3 separate regions of the Homo sapiens genome follow, and all the other regions are linked to region 3. Evidence: fine-mapped expression QTL. A gene starts in region 3. Each other region holds a variant in brackets. All regions are shown on one strand. Distances are between the middles of the regions.

The links. PIP is the estimated chance that this variant, and not a neighbour inherited with it, causes the effect.
Region 1: its variant is the best candidate, but not a certain one, in a credible set for the expression of NAA60 in atrial appendage (GTEx, PIP 0.64).
Region 2: its variant is the best candidate, but not a certain one, in a credible set for the expression of NAA60 in testis (GTEx, PIP 0.79).

The regions. Positions count from the first base shown.
Region 1 is chr16:3,487,028-3,491,176 of GRCh38, forward strand. No RefSeq gene overlaps it. Among named protein-coding and RNA genes, the nearest start is that of MIR6126, 3.6 kb to the left of the region's middle. RefSeq lists an enhancer at 1,062-1,356. The variant C/T (reference allele first, on the strand shown) is at 1,638.
Region 2 is chr16:3,481,647-3,485,795 of GRCh38, forward strand. It overlaps NAA60 (N-alpha-acetyltransferase 60, NatF catalytic subunit), which reads left to right. Exons shown (of 8, transcript NM_001083601.3): 5 at 856-952; 6 at 1,717-1,951; 7 at 3,053-3,415; 8 at 3,821-4,149. The coding sequence ends at 3,209. MIR6126 (microRNA 6126) reads right to left here and starts at 3,823; the gene lies at 3,735-3,823. The variant T/C (reference allele first, on the strand shown) is at 2,235.
Region 3 is chr16:3,441,880-3,446,028 of GRCh38, forward strand. It overlaps NAA60 (N-alpha-acetyltransferase 60, NatF catalytic subunit), which reads left to right and starts at 1,801. Exons shown (of 8, transcript NM_001083601.3): 1 at 1,801-1,958. ZNF597 (zinc finger protein 597) reads right to left here and starts at 1,625. Exons shown (of 4, transcript NM_152457.3): 1 at 1,481-1,625; 2 at 1,242-1,327. The coding sequence starts at 1,274. RefSeq lists an enhancer at 1,885-2,034.

The DNA.
Region 1 (4,149 bases), 45 kb after region 3:
GCTACTTGTCACTGGCAAGGCCCAAGGATGGCTTCCAGATAAAGGGGACAGTGGTTTTGTGTGATTAACCCTGTCAGAGAATGAGGACCTTTGGCCAGGCACGGTGGCTCACGCCTGTAATTCTAGCACTTTGGGAGGCCGAAGTGGGCGGATCACGAGGTCAGATCGAGACCAGCCTGGCCAACATGGTGAAACCTCATCTCTACTAAAATACAAAAATTAGCCGGGCGTGGTGGTGTGCACGTGTAGCCCCAGCTACTCGGGAGCCTGAGGCAGGAGAGCTTGAACCCAGGAGGCGGAGGTTACAGTGAGCTGAGATGGCGCCATTGCACTCCAGCCTGGTGACAGAGCGAGACTCCAGAAAAAGAATGTGAAACTGGGGAAGAGGTTCTAGAGTTGAGAAGCACATTAGGTCCTTTTTTCACTGGAAGGTCCCCAGCAGCTGCCCTGTCTGGGCATCTCCCTGGCTGTAGGCCTTGAGCTGGGGCCCAGTCCAGGCAGGCGGCTCCAAGGGTGATTTGGTGCACCCTGCTGTGGAGCCTGAGGTGCGTGCCCACCCAGCACAGACCTGGTGCTTCCGTCAGCCTCTCATGGAAACTTCTGGTCACCCTCAAGGGATGATATTGTTCCTCTTAGAGATGAGGAGAACTGGCTCGGGGGCTGGGAGTTACCAAGGAGCCACAGTTTGTGAGTGTTGGGCCCAGGCCTGGGCCACTCTGAAGCCTGCGTGGCTGCTCTGTTACACCATTCCTGTGCCTTTGACCTCATCCAGTGGCCGGGAGACATGCAACTTGCCGAGGGTCCTCCCAGGAGAGGGTCTGAAGCATCTGCAAGATGGAGTAGGGGTGGACGCTGGTGCCCTGGGAGGCCAGGCAGCTGGGCGCGCTGGACCCATGTCCAAAGCCATGGGGTGAGTGAAACCAGATTAACCCGCTGAGCTTGCCCACGGGAGCGTCTGCTGGGGAGACACAGTCTTGGTTACTCCAGCAAGGACAGTTGCACCTTTGCTGATGAGTCAGCTTGCGGTTAAGAGGGTAACTCTTTGGGGCCCTTGGTCAATCGTGTGACCAGTTAGTAACTTGCCCAGGTGGGGCTGCGGCTCCTCAGGCCCTGCTTCAGTGAGGCCAGGCAGGACTGCCACTGCTCCAGGCCTCTCACCATAGCCCCACCGGACCGCAGAGCTGGGACACAAACGCTCGTGCTCCACTGGGGGGCAGAAAGGGAGTGTGGGACCCAGGGAGAGGTAGGACACACACAGGATGCACCTGGACATAGCACGGAGGCCAGCCCTGAACGGAGCTGGCTCTGCCCCAGGCCTGCTCAGGGGTGGAGCCCGAGGCAGCCTTGGGTCTCCCCGCTCCCTGCACACACCACCCAAGGATCTCCTATAGGGTAGGGGTCCTTCATACTTTCAGGACGGAGACAGACTCCTGGTCTTCCATTCCTAGCCCACCGGCGTTCAGGGACTCACGGGGTAAGGGGCGTGCCCAGGGATGGTCAGTGTATTTTCTTTTTTTTTTTTTTTTTTGAGATGGAATCTCATTCTGTTTGCACTCCAGCCTGGGTAACAGAGTGAGATCTTGGCTCACTGCCAGCTTGGCCTCCCGGGTTCACGCCATTCTCCTGTCTCAGCCTCC[C/T]GAGTAGCTGGTACAACAGGCGCCTGCCACCATGCCCGGCTATTTTTTTGTATTTTTAGTAGAGACGGGGTTTCACCATGTTAGCCAGGATGGTCTCGATCTCCTGACCGCGTGATCCGCCCGCCTCGGCCTCCCAAAGTGCTGGGATTACAGGCATGAGCCACCGCGTCCGGCTGAGGTCAATGTGTATTTTCATGAGCGTCCGCTTGCTCAGGCCAAGTGCTGCTTTCTCCACATCGACTCCCACCCCAGCGTGCCATGATTGTGGCTTTTTTGCCTCTCAGTCTGTTGGAGTGCTTCTCAAAAAGGCTTTGGGAGGTTTTGCGGGAGGGACTGTCTAGAGGCCAATTTAGGGCCAGTTTTCTTTGGGGCCAGCATGTGGCTGCAGCAGATGTCCTCTCGGGTAAGATCCTGGCTACAGCTGTCTGTGGCTGAGTTACAGACTGTCTTTTTTTTTTTTTTTTTTTTTTTTTTTTTTTTTGAAACGGAACCTGCTCTCTCCCCCAAACTGGCGTCCAGTGGCGTGATCTCGGCTCACTGCAAGCTCCGCCTCCCGGGTTCACACCATTCTCCCGCCTCAGCCTCTGGAGTAGCTGGGACTACAGGGGCCCGCCACCATGCCTGGCTAATTTTTTTTGTATTTTTAGTAGAGATGGGGTTTCACCGTGTTAGCCAGGATGGTCTCGATCTCCTGACCTCGTGATCTGCCCACCTCGGCCTCCCAAAGTGCTGGGATTACAGGCATGAGCCACCGTGCCTGCCGGAGTAACAGACTGTCTTAAAGCTTCACAGCCTAAGCAGGGGCCATTCTGTTTGCTTCCAATTCCAGCTGGGACAGGAGTCAGCAGGGACTCCATGTGGTATTAGCCAGGCAGGCTGGCGGGGCTGGAGGACCTGTGTGAAAGATGGCCCTACCCACAGGGCTGCCCACAGTGAGCTCAGCAGTGGCCATGGGCTTGGCTCCTTCCTTCCATGGCTTCCTCAGGCTAGGCTGGTTTTGCACCATACCACAGTCCCAGGGTAGACTCCTTACGGGGCCACTGACCTCCTGGGAAGCTGCCAGGCTTCCTTACTGCCCAGAAGTGACACCCCGCCACTTCTGCCACATTCTACTGGTAAAGCAGGATCTGGAGCCTGTCCCAATTCAAGGGGAGGGGGCTACACAGGGGCCAGAACACGAAGACACGTGGCTCATCCGGGGTAGCAGAAGGGCCACTGACCATAGCCTGGGACCCCCCCCCCCACCCACCCAAAATCTGGAGCCTGGGGCAACCTGTGCTCCTCTCTGAGCCTCCACTCTTTGTTCAGAAGTGAGTGGAGTCCAGGTGCGGTGGCTGATGCCTGTAATCCCAGTACTTCAGGAGGCCAAGGTGGGAGGATCTCTTAAGCTCAGGGGTTCAAGACCAGCCTGGGAAACATAGTGAGACCCTCATCTCTTAAAAAAATAGAAAATCGGCCAGGCGCGGTGGCTCACACTGGTAATCCCAACACTTTGGGAGGCCGAGGAGGGCAGATCACGAGGTCAGGAGATCGAGACCATTCTGCCTAACACGGTGAAACCCCATCTCTATTAAAAATACAAAAAATTAGCCGGGCGTGGTGGCGGGCGCCTGTAGTCCCAGCTACTCAGGAGGCTGAGGCAGGACAATGGTGAACCCAGGAGGCGGAGGTTGCAGTGAGCCGAGATCATGCCACTGCACTCCTGCCTGGGCGACAGAGCAAGACTCCGTCTCAAAAAAAAAAAAAAAAAAAAAAAAAAAAAAAAAAAGCTGGGCATGGTGGTGGCCCACGCCTGTAGTCTCTGCTACTCAGGAGGCTGAGATGGTAGGGTCACTTGGCTCAGGAGCTCAAGGCTGCAGTGAGCTATGATTGTTAAACATAGGGCCCAGCGTGGAGCCTCACCTATAATCCCAGCACTTTAGGAGGTGGAGGCGGGAGCATTGCTTGAGGCTGGGAGTTGGAGACCAGGGGCAACATAGCAAGACCCTTTCTCTACCAAAAAAAAGTTTGTAATTAGCTGGACATGGTGGCAACTGCCTTTGGTTCCAGCTACTCAGGAGGCTGAGGCAGGAAGATCACTTGAGGCCAGGAGTTCAAGGCTGCAGTGAGTTAAGATCATGCTACTGCACTCCAGGCTGGGAGACAGTGAGACACTGTCTCAAAAAAAAGAAAAGGGGAAAAAAAGTGGATTAGGCCCCTAACGGTCTCCAAGCTCCAAGGACTTTGTATTGCTGGCCTCTGTGCGGCCTCAGTTATGCCCAGCGTCCGCAGCTGGTGGCTGGTGCAGGCGTCCTTCCATGTTTACTCAGCAGCCTCCCTAATGTCAGTCTTTAAGTGGTCTCTTGGATCCACCTGGCCTCTGCGTCTCTGGGGAATGAGTGTTGTGGGAGAGAGAGAAGGCAGCTGCCCCTCCGCCACCCCATGTGACTCATCAGTGGACCTCAGGCCCGCTGCATCCCACCCACACCTGCCCCATCACAGCTGCTCTTGGGTGCAGCATGTAAACACCTGC
Region 2 (4,149 bases), 40 kb after region 3:
CCTCTCAGGCTTAGTGAGTTCAAGGTCAGGGCAAAGTAGACCCTGTTAAGAGATGTCAGCTGGGGAACAGACACCCTTCCTGCAGGCCTGGAGTAACAAGAGTGATAAGGACGCCTTCCTCCCTGGACTGACATATCTGGGTGAACTGTGGCTTGAAGAGGGCTGGGAGAGCAGGGAGCCTGGACAGGCTGACCCCAGCCCAGCACGTGGGAGCAGAAAGGCCTTCTTGTTCTTTACGAGTTGGAAGATGATAAGAGCCTCATGCTGATCAGATTCATGACTCCCACCCGGAATTCCATCTCTAGAACCAAGAGATGGTGGGTGGCTTTACGCAGGTGTGGCGGTGTCCTCTGCCTGTGGGGGCAGCAGAAGGGGTTGGACGGCCGCCCAAGTCTCACTCCTCCAAGATCACCTGGGGCAGCGTGCGATTCTTTAACTGAACCTCTAAAACTTTGCATTTGTCCACTGTCCTGCATCCAGGCCTACCAGGTGACATGCGTGCATTCCCATGAGGCCCGCGTGGTGCTGTGTAGTTGCTGCCTTCATGCCATAACTTTACCTTGTGCTGGCATCAGAGCCTCATTCCCGTCCTTGGCTAGGCCTCCCACACACCCCTAGGAGAAGCTCCTTTTGTGTGTGTTCTTCTTTTCAGCTGTTTTTCACCAGAAGGGCATAAACGCTCTCATTTCCTTGGGGAGTGGGGGCCCCTCTCCAGTACCTCTTGATTCTGCCCCTCCCAGTCGGTGTCCCTCTGGCTGTCGTGGGAAGTCGGTGCGGAGCCCGCCTGGGCCGGGCTGTGCAGTGAGCCGTGCACCAGACGTGTGAGCCTGACTTTCTCTCTGACTCTTCCTCTAGGATGGAGATATTCTAGCATCCAACTTCTCTGTTGACACACAAGTCGCGTACATCCTAAGTCTGGGCGTCGTGAAAGAGTTCAGGAAGCACGGCATAGGTAAGGGCAGCCGGGCCCGCGGCTTGGCGCCCACCCCACCCCCTTGCCCTACCCCACCCCCATCCCATCTGCACCCAGTCTCTTCCCTGGCCCCAACAACTCTGGCTCGTGAACATCCCTCAGTCTCATCTTCCATCCTCGTTCCCGTCTTGGGCCAGACCTTCATCATCCCTCCCCTGCCAGCACACCCACCACCTTCAGCCATCCTCTTTCCACATGCCCCCAGGCCTTTCTGCTGCAGCCTCGCTCAGCCCCCAGGATGGAGCTGAGGAAACTGGCACCTCTCACTTCTGCTGCCGCCACACGCACAACTCGTGTATTCACTGCTCACGATTCAGAGTAGAAAGCGTGAACACGCACGAGGAAGCAACACTCACCGTTTCTCCGATGTCCCACCCCACTCGGCCACACGGCCAGTGAGCGGCAGAGTCTTAATTAATTTTAAACCCAGGCCCATCTAGTCCATGTTTTCCTGGGCTCACATTTACCCTGTTTGTTGTCTGAAAGGGAGTCTCCATGCGGGCCCAGCCCATGGGAGGGCGCTACCAGGCCACCTCTGCAGTCCCTCCCAGCAGTCTGTAGCTACCAGGCTCCATCTGGCCATGAGATTTTAGGGACTTTGACAGTGGTGGTGAAGAAAGGCTGGTCTCTGATACGGTGGGCCGAGACATCTCCGAGAGACTCATGCAAAGCCCCCATCCTAGCCCAGTCATCCTTCCTTCCTAACTGCTCTGCCTGCATTACCTTTACCTCTTCTCCCCAAGGTTCCCTCTTACTTGAAAGTTTAAAGGATCACATATCAACCACCGCCCAGGACCACTGCAAAGCCATTTACCTGCATGTCCTCACCACCAACAACACAGCAATAAACTTCTATGAAAACAGAGACTTCAAGCAGCACCACTATCTCCCCTATTACTACTCCATTCGAGGGGTCCTCAAAGATGGCTTCACCTATGTCCTCTACATCAACGGCGGCCACCCTCCCTGGACGATTTTATATCCTTAACTTCTGGGGGAGAGGGACTGTGGCTTCCTGTCCATAAGGTGGCAGAGCCAGTGAGCAAGTTGGAGCTGTGGTCCCCCTCAGATGATGTTCAGGTGGCCAAGCTTATGGATGCTTCTCTCCCTTACCTGATCGTGTTGTGGGTAAACCTGACACACATTTGGGTAAATCGAGTTGCACATATTACCATGTTGCCCAGGCTGGTCTCGAACTCCTAAGCTCAAATGATCCGCCTGCCGCAGCCTCCCAAATTACTGGGATTATAGGCATGAGCCC[T/C]GCACCCAGCTGGAGAGCCTCCTGCTCCACTTGCACTGGGGATCAGCAGTGCACAAAACGGACAGGATCCCCTGTCCTCCCAGAGCCTGTGCTAGCAGAGGGGAAACAAGTGCGGAGAGAAGAGATTTTTACTTTTTTTGAATACTTGGGTTCAAACCTTCCTTATAGGATGCATGACCCAAAGGTATGCCCTTCCCTGCTTCTTCCTCCTTAACTTTCACTGGCCCCTGACAGGTCAGAGGGAAGCCAGGAAACTTTATAATAGTCAGAATGTGGCCCAAAAAAATGCTGTGCGTGTGTGTGTGTGTTTTCAAATTCATGAGTCTAGGATTTATTCATTACATAGAATAATAAGCAGGAAAGAGAGGGGTGACCCCACACTCCACAGGCCGTCTAGCTTATGTGAAGACAGGCATCCAGGGGGTCAGCACTGTTGACCCCCTCCTTGTCATATGGACAGGGCTCTGTCCCTCTTGCTGCCACAAAGGTTGAGAATCTAGGGAGAACCAGAAGCACCTGCCCTTCTGCCAGGCCCCTTCCCCACCCCCCGTGCATCCCTGGGTGTGGTGTCCACATGCCTGCTGCCTCACTCAGAAGGCCCTTCTGTCCCCAGACCCCACCCTCTGTTGTTTTGCACAGCAGAGGCCACTTCGTCTCATGAGCCTTTCCAGCTCTGCAGAGGCTTAGCGGGCTCTCAGCCTCCGAAGCCTGGCTTGCCATCTGCACACAGTCCCACAGGCCACTGCGCGGGCCCCTGATGACTGTGCCCTGGCGAGCGTGGTCAGGGCAAGTCGGAATCTTCCTTAACAGAGCCCCACGGACTACATCCAGCACCTGGGCTCTGCACTAGCCAGCCTGAGCCCCTGCTCCATTCCGCACAGAGTCTACCGCCAGGCCCACAGCCTGCTCTGCAGCTTCCTGCCATGGTCGGGCATCTCTTCCAAGAGTGGCATCGAGTACAGCCGGACCATGTGATGTCGGCTGGGCAGCCGCCACCAGGCCCCACCCTTCGGCCGCCCGCAGAGCCCGCCTTCCTGTCCATCTGACCCCTTCTGTTTTCTGCAAGGAGCTGCCAGCCATCTAACTGGGCTCGTCGGCCTGCCCCAGCTGCAGGCCCGGTGCTACACGGGCTCGGGAACAGAACATCGTGGGCATGCGCAGAGCATGCCCATCCGTGGCAGGTACGCCACAGCAGACACAAAGGTATGGGAGCTTGGTGCCTCCAGCCACAAAAGTGGAAGGCCCTGGATGGGCACAGAGAACGGCAGAGCCGGAAGGGGCCGTGGGGACTGCAGAGTCCACCACCTTATGCACCAGCACAGCCCAGAGGTTTGGTGACTTGTGCCAAGCTAACACAGCAGGCTCCATGGCAACTGGGCTGTGCACCCGACTTTGGATCCATCAGTGCCTTTATTTGTGTGGGGACCGAGAGGCGCCTAGTGGCTGCAGGCAGACACCATGGCCTGGAGAAGGGCTCATGCTCCTGGAGCACCCAGGCCCAGCTGTGTGGCCCATAGGCAGGGTGTGGGGTGGGCAGAGTGTCTCCGCCGGGCCTTCACCCTGCCCTGCTCTTCTCTTTCCCACAGGCTCTTCAGCTCCCCTCCCTGCTTCTGGAAACCTCTGCCTGCTGCCCTGGCCCTGCCCCCCTGCGCATGCACCGTCCCCAGGGCTGACCCAGTGTGGCTGCATTCACTGGGAGGGGCCTGCCCTCACTGGGCCTCTCCCACTCCGCTGCCTGTTCTTGCAGCTCCTTCCTGGAAAGCTGGAGGGGACTTTCTCCTGCAAGGGAGGAACGCAAGTATTATGGACACACTTGACCGTAAAGGCACAGGAGCCTCGGAACAAGGGGGCGCAATAAAGGGAATGGCCCGTCCCCTTCCAGAACCAGCCCAAAGAAGCCTGGGGGGTGAGGAGT
Region 3 (4,149 bases):
TGGGCCAGGAGAATCGTTTGAATCCAGGAGGCAGAGATTGCAGTGAGCCGAGATCGCGCCATTGCACTCCAGCCTAGGCGTCGCAGCGAGACTGTCTCAAAAAAAAAAAAAAAAAGAAAAGAAAAGGAGAAAGTTGGGCAGCCCAGGAAGAATCATAAAGAGATAAAGGTTACAGGATTCTCCCAACATCCTTCCCTTTGCTATTTCCTCTCGTCCCCATGACACTCATTGCTAAGCTCACTCCAGCACTTCATCCAGGCCTACCCCACCTTCTCTAACGGTGTGATAAATTAATCACTTGGGATTTATTATTACTCAACGAGTGTGGAGTCTAGAAATGTGCTTAATTTAAAAATTCATTCAAATTGGAGAAGTACCAAATCTGTAATTTTGGGAACCATTCCAGAAAGTCACTTTTAATCCTAGCACTTTGGGGAGCCGAGGTGGGAGGATAGCTGAAGGCCAGGAGTTCCTTGGCAAAGCAGCAAGACTCCATCTCCATAAAGAAGTTTTAGGCCGGGCGCAGTGGCTCACACCTGTAATTCCAGCACTTTGGGAGACCGAGGCGGGCGGATCACAAGGTCAGGAGATTGAGACCATCCTGGCTAACACGGTGAAACCCCGTCTCTACTAAAAATACAAAAAATTAGCAGGGCGTGGCGGCAGGCGCCTGTAGTCCCATCTACTCGGGAGGCTGAGGCAGGAGAATGGCATGAACCCGGGAGGCGGAGCTTGCAGTGAGCCGAGATCGCGCCACTGCACTCCAGCCTGGGCGACAGAGCGAGACTCTGTATCAAAAAAAAAAAAAAAAGAACTTTTAAAAGTAGCCAGACACTGTGGTATGCGCGCCTCTCAGATACTCGAGAGGCTGAGGCGTAAGGATTCCCTGAGTTCCAGACGGAGCTATGATATCAGCACTGCACTCCAGCCAGACAAGCAACACTCCAGCGACAAGGCCAGACCCTATCTCCAAACAAAACAAAACAAACAGATAAGACATTGAGAAACTCTCTCAGAGATTCCTCCACAGGTCCCTGCTCCCAGTTGGTAGTTCTGAAAGAAGGAAGTTGGTAAACCATTATGTGTGTGGTCTTGGAACGAAGAACACTTGGTCAAAGGGCTATTTGGGGCTCAGGAGCACTCCTACCACAACAGGCATGCCCAACTCTCCTCCAAAGGAGGGGGTCAGGCAGAGACCGAAAGCAGCAATAAACTTGGACGAAAAAGGTACCTCGACTCACCTGGGCCTCGGGCGTCGGGGGCATGGACGCCATTTGGCGGGTGGGGAATGCCTTCTTCAAGACGCCACAGGGACTTCGTGACAAAGCTGCGGGGGGAGAGAACAGTTCTTAAAGGGACCAATTCCGCTGCCAAGTTCCTCCACTACCCCTAGCCTCCCTCGATTCCCTCCGAACCCCCCCTTAAAAACCTACGCCGACTGCTCCTCCTCTTGGCCCGGCCTCGAAAGGGGCCCACTTACCGCTCCGCGGTTAATAACAGGCCTCGCGCTCCCTGACAGGAGCTGCAGAAAGCGACGCCCGACCGAGACGCGACGAAGAACGCCACGGCCACTGCAAAACTCCCACGCTCTCATGCTCCTTTACGCAGGAGCTGCGGGAAAAGCCGCCGGAAGCGACCCGCCCTCAGCCCTCTCCGCCATCCTGCCCTTTGATTGGTCGAAGTTCTCCCGAAGGGGAAGTCCTTCTTTTGTGTTGACCAATTGAACACCTTAACCGAGGACCTGTAGCCACTGGGCAGCTGCGAGAGGTAGTTTTCCTCCTTTTCTCTAAGCAACCATTTCCGCTTCCGCTGGCGGGGTCTCCTCCGTGAGCTCCGGGCCTGTTTGCCTGCTGAAGTAGAGTCTTAGGGTGACCCCAGGGGGACGTAATGTTTCCGAGAAGAAGGACAGAAAGAAGACTGGGAGACACCGGAACTCGAAAGAAAATCGGTAACAAAATGTGGGTTCGGCCAACAGTGCCCTGTAGGCCTGAAATTTCGGTCTGGCCAGAGCAAGGTGATTGAGAGGGCGGGGGTTCGGGCCTAGCCTGGGCTTGAGCTGTCCTTTGTGTCTTGAGCGGATGGTGGGGCCGTGGAACATGAAGGAGTATCTTTGTGTACGTTCACAACGTTCACATCGGTGTAGGCCAGGTTGCTGGACTCTGACTCAAAGTGTTATAGAGGCATTACGTATTGTACCCGCAGCTGCAGCCTAAGCGAGCTGCTTCAGCTTCCTAGTCACAGGATCCCACGCGAGAATAGAGCCATAGGTTAGCGTCGCAGGACGTTGTTCGCCCCCGGATACCTCACATGCAGCCTACCCTAGAGCCAGTCATTTCCTATTGTGTGCTGGGGGAGGAGGGAGTGCCCTGGTGTAGGCATTTGGAATTGGAAAATTGAGCTCCTCCCCAAGCTCTGCCACTGATTGGTTGGTAATCTTGGCCAGTTTACAACTTTGCTTTCCTCAGCTGCAAACAGCTCAGAGTGCCTCTCTGGGCTAACTCAGAGGGTAATTTCAAAGATTATAAGATAATGTAAGTGAAAGAAATTGCCAGTTTATAAAGGTGTTTGGGGAAAAAAAAAGACGAAAATGATAGGTACCTTGATAGAAAAGCCTGAAAAGTCTCAACATATTTCCTTATTCCAGTGCCAGGCACATTCCTGTATCTAAAAGCTTAATGAATGGCTGCATGGTTATTAAAACAATATTAGGAGATTTGACAACTTAGGTAATGTGATTTTGTGGAATATCTGATAGGATAGTTTCAGCTACAAGTAACAGAAAACCCACCGAAAGGATGTTCAAAGAGCAGTTACAGGTTGGTTAATTCGGTGGCCCAGTGACAACATCAAGGTCCCAGTGCTTCTCTGCCACCCTAAGCATGTTGGTAACGTTGACAATAGAATCCAGGTAAAATATACAGACATGTATTGTGTCATGTACCCATCCTAAACTAGTTATTACCAAGAATAAATAATTGTTTGGGGCCCATCATGCTTCAGCCCCTGTCACTAGGGGAAGGACCTAGCCTCCCTTGATAATCTACCTGCACAAAATTAGGGCTTTGTTACAAATGAAAAAAAGAGATGTGGAAAATAAGTTAGATAAGAAACTAGCAGTATCTGCCACAAATGATATCTCTTGACAGCTAACTAAGAGCTAGACCTTGTGGGGATGGATCACAAAAGAGGTAGCTGTGAAGTCCCAGTAAAGGTGCTTCCAGGACAGGTGGAAGAATGGTAAGAACAAACTTGCCTACAGGCTAGACCAGTCCAAAGCATATATGTTGAAGAAGAGCTAATAGCCTGTATATGAAGGTGTAAGTAAAGGAGATGTTCATGGTTGAGTCACTGTGGTGTTCACGTAGTCATCTTTCCCTTCTTGGTTTGTGCTTATCTCTTTTTTTTTTTTTTTTTTGAGACAGTCTCACTCTGTAGCCAGACTGGGGTGCAGTGGCACAATCCTGACTCACTGCAACCTCTGCCTCCGGGGTTCAAATGATTCTCCTGCCTAAGCCTCCTGAGTAGCTGGGACTACAGGTGCCCGCCACCACGTCCGGCTAATTTTTTTTTTTTGTATTTTTAGTAGAGATGGGGTTTCATCATGTTGGCCAGGATGGTCTCGATCTCGTGACCTCATGATCCACCTCGGCTTCCCAAAGTGCTGGGATTACAAGCGTGAGCCACCGCGCCCCGCCTATTTAATGCTATTCTTACATCAGCACTGTCTCATTGTGGTCTGAGATTCTCCTTATCTGGATTTGTGGCTCTTTCACCAAGAACAAGAGACTCCCGTGGCTCTCTTCTTTAAATCCTGTTGCCATAATTACAAAGAAATAAACACAGTTTCCAATGCTTTGAAATGAAGCATGTGGTATTAACTCAGTGGATTACCAGAGAGAGAGGGATATACCTGAAATGGGAGAGGAAAAAATCTTCCCTAGACTATCTTTCCTAAGAGCCATCAAAACTATAAACAAGTGGACAAAGAAGGAGGAAGCTTGAAAGCTTTATCTTCCTGAAAATAAAGAGATGACATACAAAGTCCAAGATAGACCAAGATTGAAAAATTAGACCACATTATATCCCTAACTCAATTTTGTAAAAAATCACAAATGCTTGACTGTATACCCACTATATGTTCAAGTAACA